Linked DNA regions of Homo sapiens: region 2 is linked to region 1. Evidence: fine-mapped expression QTL. A gene starts in region 1. The other region holds a variant in brackets. All regions are shown on one strand. Distances are from middle to middle.

Evidence for each region. PIP is the estimated chance that this variant, and not a neighbour inherited with it, causes the effect. A credible set is the group of variants that fine-mapping cannot tell apart.
Region 2: its variant is the best candidate, but not a certain one, in a credible set for the expression of DCAF8-DT in whole blood (INTERVAL, PIP 0.65).

Annotation. Positions count from the first base shown.
Region 1 is chr1:160,259,865-160,264,113 of GRCh38, reverse strand. It overlaps DCAF8-DT (DCAF8 divergent transcript), which reads right to left and starts at 2,365. Exons shown (of 2, transcript NR_147618.1): 1 at 2,192-2,365; 2 at 1,336-1,713. DCAF8 (DDB1 and CUL4 associated factor 8) reads left to right here and starts at 1,565. Exons shown (of 14, transcript NM_015726.4): 1 at 1,565-1,665; 2 at 2,756-2,829. RefSeq lists enhancers at 1,481-1,750, 2,381-2,510, 1,682-2,630.
Region 2 is chr1:160,195,755-160,200,003 of GRCh38, reverse strand. It overlaps CASQ1 (calsequestrin 1), which reads right to left. Exons shown (of 11, transcript NM_001231.5): 6 at 3,977-4,107; 7 at 2,390-2,435; 8 at 1,273-1,327; 9 at 951-1,051; 10 at 79-153. Among named protein-coding and RNA genes, the nearest start is that of CASQ1, 7.3 kb to the right of the region's middle. The variant A/G (reference allele first, on the strand shown) is at 2,215.

The DNA.
Region 1 (4,249 bases):
GTAGTATAGCTGGATCACAAACATAATTTTAGATTAAATGTTATAGGTAAAAAATGTTATTAAAAAAACAGTGCAGAGTAAGGGGATAGAGGAGGATGACATGAGGTTCCATTTTAGTTACAATAGTCAAGAGCTGCCTGTGTTAGGAAGTAGGATTTCAATAGACACCTCAAGTCTAGTAAATATCTAGTAGATGGACATTCCAAGAAAAGGAAAAAAACCCTAGGGCTGGGACATGCTTTGACTGGAGTGACAGTAAGGCTAGTGAGGCTAGAGCAGAGCTAGGCAGTGTGGGAGGAGATGAATCAGATAAATAGGCAGGTGCTAGATCAGATCATGTAGGGTCCTCCTTAGAGGCAATTCATTTTTTGATGGCCTCTAAGGCTATCATACTTTTGACTTTTATTATGTGATGGGAATTGGAGGTTTTGAGCAGGGTGGGGACTGGGGAAATAATACGACATTACTTTTTTTTTGAGACGGAGTCTCATTCCATTGCCCAGCCTGGAGTGCAGTGGTGCGATCTCAGCTCACTGCAACCTCCGCCTCCGGGTTCAAGCAATTCTCCTGCCTCAGCCTCCCAAGTAGCTGGGATTGCAGGCGCGCTCCACCATGCCGGGTAATTTTTTTTTTTTTTTGTATTTTTCGTAGAGACGGGTTTCACCATGTTGGCCTGGTTTCAAACGAGTTTCGAACTCCTGACCTCAAGTGATCCGCCCACATCCGCCTCCCAAAGTGCTAGGATTACAGGCATGAGCCACCGCGCCCGGCCAGACCTTACATTTTTAAAAAGCACTCTGGCTGCCTTATGTTTAACTGTAATGGCAATAATGGAAGTAGACAAACGAGGTAAGTTTCTATTGCGGTAGTCTTAAGTAATATGTAATGACTTGGAATAGGAGAGTAGCGGTAGGGGAGGTGAGAAAGGGTCAGATTTTTGCACCCTGGGCTTCTGGTAAGAAAAAAAAAAAAAATACCCCAGCCTGGCAGCTGGGAGTAATCCTCTGCAGGGTTACTGTAGGTGTCATAACGAAACAGAGTACAAAAGTCACCCCACATCACCCGGCCCACTCTTGGGAACCTTTACCCACACCACCTCTCTTCAGAAAAGAGCTTCTGGAATAGCTACACCTCAAGCTACTGAGCCCCTTCTTTAAAAATACGTAAATGGGGACTCTCAGGGGAAAATGGGCCTCGATAGTATAGAAACCACTTAAGGAAACAAAGCCCTGAAAGGAAACGGGGATTTTCAGAAGAAATCCTTGTGGCAATCATTGCTCGTTCCAGTGTTCAAAAACGGCAAAACTGGCCATCATCCAGGAAGTGGCCTGCCAATCCGCTGGAAATTTAGTTTATTTCTATCACAACTCTGGGTAGCCCCTAACTCGCATTTGTTTAGAGTATCACAAGATAAGCAAGCCCGAAGAAACTACAAAAACAACTTTGCCTCTTCGGTAATGCGCAGGCGCCTCTCGCTCTGTTTTCCGTTGGCCTTAAGCCCCGCCCCTTGTGCGTCCTTCGAGGAGGGTTGCGAGCCGTGAGCTCGCGCGACCACTCTTCCCTCAGTCTTCTCGAGCACATCGTCGCAAACGGGGCCGGAAAGCGTGGCAGCGCAGGCGCAAGCGCAGAGAGCGGAGGCGGTGGTGGTGGCGGCCGCTGGCCAGTGTAAGATGGCGGCGGCGTTGGTGGTGGCAGTGGACGGGGCGGCTGGGCCTGGAACAGTCGGAGCAGCCGCTAGCAGAAGGATGACCCAAGACGGGAAGCGGGCTGCTGAGCCTCGCCGATTCCCGTGCTTGTAACTGCCCCAGCCGGACACCCCCCCTCCCTTGACCTACCCGGTCTGTGTCTCGTTCCGGCTCGGCCTGCGCCCCCCCTCGCTTCCCAGCCGGTTTCCCCTAAGGATGGGCCTGACCCGTATCCCAAGCTCTTAGCGCTCAGGTCTTTTCCTTCCGCCGACCCGAAGTCATCGCTGGGAGTACTGGTTGCCCTTTCCTCAGGTCAGCCCTGGTGTTGCCCCCAAGAGCCAGCCGCACAGTTCACAGGGACGCCTTGCTTCGTTGGGTGACCCATGTGTGCGCTCCTATTTCTCCCCTTAGATTGAGGGACACGGCTCGCCCTGCGTCTCCCCGTCACCTCAGGGCCACCGCGCAATGTGTCCCCCTCCCCCATCCCAAGTTCCCAGGCCCAGCACCTTGTACGGAAGGCGGAGGTCCAAGAATTCCGGAGTCGGTTGTTGTCTTGTGGTCTTGTACCCTTTGTAATATAATTATCTTAGTTTACCTCCTCTAACTCCCAAATCTTTTAGGATATCTTAGAACGGTCCCATTTGGTCCCTGTTAGTTGGAAAGCATCTGGTGGCTTGAATTTCTGACTCATGATTGTTACTGGAGTCTCTGTAAACAAACCGGCACTAGCGCTATCACATTCTCTCCGGGATTTCCCCCCCTGCTCTGTGGCTTCTTGTTGAGAGGTTGTTTGGTTATGGTTTAGCGTTGAAAAGATTCAGGTTATCCTTTTAAATGACTTTACGTTTTAGTGGAGCTGGGAGATTACTTGCCTGGCTTCTAATCTTCATGTTGGTTCATTTTATTTCCATATGTGTGTGGGTTATTTGTTCAGTAATTAGAATTAGATAAAGTATTCTGCTTTTAAGTAGTTTTGAGAAGGCCTAAAAATACTAAAGTGTATTCATAAATATTTTTATTATGTTCAGTAGAAGACACACCTTTGCCATGTAAATTTTAACTTTTCTCAGTCCTTCAGTGAATCTACAGACCTATTTTCTCAGGAGCTCAGCCTGGCCTTACTTCAGTGATAAAAGGAGGAAAGGTGAGTGGGAGTTGGAGGCATTAAAATTCTTGAGTTCAAGACAGACTGCGCTGATGCTCAACTGCTGACCACTAAAGTCATAAAATTCCTACCAGTTTCCCAAAGAGCTTGAGTGTTGTTCTTGGCTTTGTTCCAGCTCTGGTTGAATTACTTTTACAAGTTTAATTGTCTGTGGGCTTCTTGTCTTTCTGTCCTAAACTATTGCTGTGTATCTCCAAATGACTTAAGCCTAGAAGTGAATGTGTGCCCCCTGCCCCATGTCTTCTTTTCTTCTTTATTCATTTTCCTTGTATTTTGTCTTTGTGTCGATCATATTTTTTACGTTGTTAAAAACTGGAACTTAGTTTGCCTGAGTTCTGTTCATCCTGTTGTCAAATCAGGTCTCTTCCCCTCTCACAGCTTCGGGTTGTCATCCCTTGGTATTTAGAGGAGAATATTTAGCTGCTTGTGACTAAAAGCTGGGGAGTGATGAGTGATGCTGCCTTTAGTTGGTGTCTGAGTCCAGTCTATTTCAGAATTCCGACTTTTTAGGATATAGTGGGAAATTTTTTGTAAAAAAAAAAAAAAAATAGTGGCTGCTCTTTCTTTTGTAGCTGGTCTGAAGAATTCTTGGTTAGCAGAAGAAACATCCTGGGCATTCAGCAGCATGGGTTGGTGCCAAAAAGGGAGTCAGAACATACTTATAAATGCAGTTTTCGTGAGGCTTTCAGGTTTCTGGTAGCAGAGACTAGAGGCTCATGGCATGTGACAGAAAAGCTAAGTGACTGGAAGGTAGGCCTGGCCAATTCCTAATATCTTTATGATTTGTAGTAGGAAAATATTGAGTGACACTGGTGAGTTTTATTCCATCTGATGACTGAATTAGAAAATGCTCATCATGGACTGGAATAAAATTATTAGTGATGGTGTATATGTGTATCAGTAAGATATAAAGAGAAAAGTACAGTCTTTAGAGATTGGACAGACTTTTAATTTAATTTTAAGGTTTAAATACTAGACTAATATTTCTTAGCCATGTGACCTTGAGCAAGTTACTTAAACTTCTCTGACTCTTAATTTCCACAACTCTAAAAGTGTGATAATACCACTTACCTCCCAGGGTCATTGTTAGTATTATAGGGAATCTATTTAAAGCTCTTAGTAATCTAAGAACACGTGGTACACACTCAAAAAATGTTGTTTTTTGGTTTTTTTTTTTTGCACATCATTGATACAGCTTTGAATAAGTTATACGTTAATTTATGCTTCTTTTACATTTTGCCTTAGAACACATTTTTCTGGTTAATTTTCCCAACTGATTTTTAATTGGTCAGCTTAGACGTGTCCTTTGTAAGTGCCCACCTAGAGTTGTCTTCTGAACATGAAACCCTTGGTGGGGGTTCATAACCAGAGGACAGAGAATATTAGATATTGGTGTATG
Region 2 (4,249 bases), 64 kb after region 1:
GTTAGCAGAGAGGAGGAGAGCTAGCTATGCTAGGAAGTAGAGTCGGGGGTCAACCCGGGATGAGGACAGGAAACTCACATCAGTAACATTGACGACTCCTATTTGTGGGGCTGACAAGTCGATGTCAAACGTCTTCTCCCAGTATGGGACCAGCTGTAGAGAGATCAAAATACAGCAACTTAATAGATACTAGGGAGCACATGAATCCAGGAGGATGAGTGTGAGGGTCAGCCCAGGGATGGAGAGGGGACAGTGCGAACTGGCAGTGGATGGGGACAGGTCCACCTGTGAGGGCATCAAGGCAAGGGTAGAACTAAACAACAAAAGAGGAGAAATCCTAAAGGGAGAGAATCGGGAGGGTCAGCTGGGTGCACTGGCCCCTCTTTTCTGAGGAAAACTGGATAGGAAACCCTGTTCTGATCCTGGATCAGATCCTTGTGTTCAAGGTCAAGTCACTTCTCTCTGGCCCTCAGATCTTACATTTCTAAAATAAGGCAAGTATACCTGGTAAGTGCCAATGTTTCTCACGTTTCTCTTTGTTCTTTCAGTTACTCATTCAACAGCGAGTGCTAGGTGTTGGGAATGTAGCTGAGAACAAAATCATCTCCTGAAACAGGGAATCTCTGTGCTATGATTCTATGATTGAGTGTGTATACCCATGTGCAGGACTATTGTGCCTCACAACATTGGTTTTCTTTAGGAGTCAGCCCTAGCACCTGAGCTACCCATCCAGCCTCTGCTCTGGGAATGTGTGTGATGTCCGTCCTGTTTCCCCTTGCTCAGGATGCCCTCCATGCCAACAGTGCCCTTAAGCATGCAACACGCATACCCTCCCAGGGCCCCCCAGCTAGGAGGTGGGGATGGGACCTCTGAAACAAAGCCCTCACTAAGAAGATGTCACAGTCCAAGGCCCCACCTTAAGATAGCAGTGCCTGAGCTGTGCCTCTTACCAGGGGGAAGTCATCAGGGTCAATCCAGATGATGCTAAGATCTGGGTTTTCAGTGTTATCTTGGGCCACAGCCTTGAGAGTCTCTAAGAACTCGAAACCATCTTGGAGGGAACACAAGTACAAGGTATGAGGTGTGTAGAGAGGAAAGGGACCCAGGTGAAACAGGAGTGCAGAGCTACCTCCCTGCTCCCCAAGCTTCACATGTCTAGCCCTAGGCTGTTTGCAAACTCCCAGGAAAGCCTCCTAGTGAGGCCCATGCTCCAATAAACACACCCACCTCCCCCTGCCTTCCCTCCAGTCCAACCCGGTATTCCTCCCTCACCAGGATCAGCTTCCTCTGCGAAGGCCACAATGTGGATTCCATCCATATCATCCTCCTGTCAGGGGGTAAGAAGGAGAACAGGGTTTTGGAGAAGACCTTACTATACTCCCTGAAGTTGAGGAGCCCAGAACAGATCCTAGATGTTCATTGAACCTCAATTTTGTGGAAATCCAGCTTCAGGACCAGATATATTCTTTCGTTTTTTGGGGTTTGTTTTTTTTTGTTTTTGAGACAGAGTTTCACTCTGTCCCCCAGGGTAGAGTGCAATGGCGCGATCTCGGCTCACTGCAACCTCCGCCTCCCGGGTTCAAGCGATTCTCCTGCCTCAGCCTCCTGAGTAGCTGGGATTACAGCCATGCGCCACCACACCTGGCTAATTTTGTATTTTTAGTACAACATTGTTTCACCTTGTTGATCGGGCTGGTCTCAAACTCCTGACCTCAGATGATCTGCCTGCCTCAGCCTCCCAAAGTGCTGGGATTACAGGCGTGAGCCACTGCGCCTGGCCATATATATTCTTGTGATGGTGACCTTTTTCCAAGTGACACTCCTTTCAGCTCCAAGGCCCCACACTTCCTCTGATAATCCCTTTATCCCCAGGCTTGAGGCTCTTCCCTTGTCATCTTCAATTATGTCTGTCTCCCATTTCCTCACACATTCTTCAGTGTAGAAATCTTTCAGTTGCTGCTAGTGCACTGTTTTTTCTTTTTTCTTTTTTTTTGAGACGGAGTCTCACTCTGTCCCCCAGGCTGGTGTGCAGTGGCGGATCACTGCAAGCTCCGCCTCCTGGGTTCAAGCCATTCTCCTGCCTCAGCCTCCCAAGTAGCTGGGACTACAGGCGCCCGCCACCACACCCTGCTATTTTTTTTGTATTTTCAGTAGAGATGGGGTTTCACTGTGTTAGCCAGGATGGTCTCGATCTCCTGACCTCGTGATCCACCC[A/G]CCTTGGCCTCCCAAAGTGCTGGGATTACAGGCATGAGCCACCACACCCAGCTGGTCAGTGCACTGTTTTTTCTAAAAATGGGCCTGAGGAGCAGTAGGGTGGGGTTTTTCTAGGACTTGAGTCTTCTGGCACCCATGCTTCCCTGAGGGCTTGACCCTGGCCAGGGGCACTCACCCAGGTCTCATACATACTCTCCGGCTTCAGTTTCCTCAGGGTTGATCTAGAAGAGACAGACAGAGTGTCATTACTCAGTGGGTTAGAAGGATGCCCCCTCCAGAGGGTCCTGTAGCAAAGGCTGCCTCTAGGTCAGGCCCAGGGCACAGACAGCTTGTAGCCTACAACAAAGCCATCTGGCAAGGCCTCAACTCTGGGCACCAGGCCCGGCTCATTGCATGGTTAAAGCGGTGGGAGAGGGGAGGGTGGGCAAAGGGACTGGAAGAGAGACTGGGGGAGAAAGGCAAGAACTGGACATCAGGATATTCATTAATTTATTCATTCATTCACTCACTCACTATGATTGAGTGCCCGATATGTTCTAAGCACTATGCTAGGTGCTGGGTACATACAGTTGAACCAGGCAAGCATGTTCCTGCCTTGATGAAGGGAGCCAGTAGTATGGGAGAGTAAGTACTGTATATACTGCAAGGGAGCTTGCAGTGATCCACCACTGCACGCTAGCCTGGGGGACAGAGTGATTGGATATTTCCAGCTGTGGACTACTATGAAGGAAGGGAATTATGTGTGAGTGCCCGGCAGGATTATTCAACCTCAGCACTATTGCCATTTGGAGCCAGATAATTCTTTGTAGTAGGGGGCTGTCCTGCGCACTGTAGAATGTTTAGCAGTATCCCTGGGCTCTAGCCACTAAATACTAGTAGCACTCTGCACAACCAAAAATGTGTCTAGACATTGCCAAACATCCTTTGGAGGGCAAAAACCTATGCCCACCTCGCCACGCCTTCCCACCTTGTAGAGAACCATTGGTGTACGATATTGTATTAGAAAGAACATGGGGCCAGGCGCAGTGGCTCATGCCTGTAATCCCAGCACTTTGGGAGACCGAGGCAGGCGCATCACTTGAGGTCAGGAGTTTGAGACCAGCCAGGCCAACGTGGTGAAACCCCATCTCTACTAAAAATACAAAAATTAGCCAGGTGTGGTGGCGTGCCTGTAATTCCAGCTACCTGGGAGGCTGAGGAAGGAGAATCGCTTGAACCTGGGAGGCGGAGGCTGCAGTGAGCCAAGATGGCGCCACTGTGCTCCAGCCTAGGGGATAGAGTAAGACTCGGTCTCGGAAGAAAAAAAAAAAAAGAAGAAGAAGAAAAAAAGAACAAACATGGGACACATCAGGGTTAAAATCAGGGTTAAAAGCTCTGACACTTATTACCTGTAGAAACTTTCACTGAGGTTAAAAGGACTTAATATAATCATAGAGATGGAAAGTACCTTGCAGTTCCTGCCCCACCACAGGCAGTCAACACTCATTTGTTGACAGAGATTATTTAAGTCTCAATCAACCTCACACTGAATTATACACACTTATGAAGGACCCTCTCGGTGTAGGGCTCAGGGCTAAGTAGTGGGGTATAAAATATTGTGCAAAATTGTCAGTGTATCAGAGAGCACTGGTGCCCAAAGTGTATTCATCTCCAGGCAAGATTGGCTTCCCGGTTGGCTAAGCTTTCCCCAGCCCATCTCACACAGTGTGTTCTAGCCCAAGGAGGAGCCGACCCCGCTGAGAGGGTTGCCCTTGGTCCCCACCTCCTGTGCTCCTCCACGAAGTTGACAATCTCCTCTTCGCTATTGGGCTTGTCTGGGATGGTCACAGGCTCTTCCATGAAGGCCTCGTAGAAATCAATCTCATTCAGCTTCAGGGTCAGCTTCTTTGCCACCTTTGGGAGAGGGGGTAGGAGGGGAGTGGAGCAGGAGACACAGGGTCATGTCGAGAAGCAGTATAATGGGGGAACAAATATTAGGAAGGGAGTCAGAAAGCCGGGATCCTTGTCACTGCCACTGTGACACCTGACAAGTGTC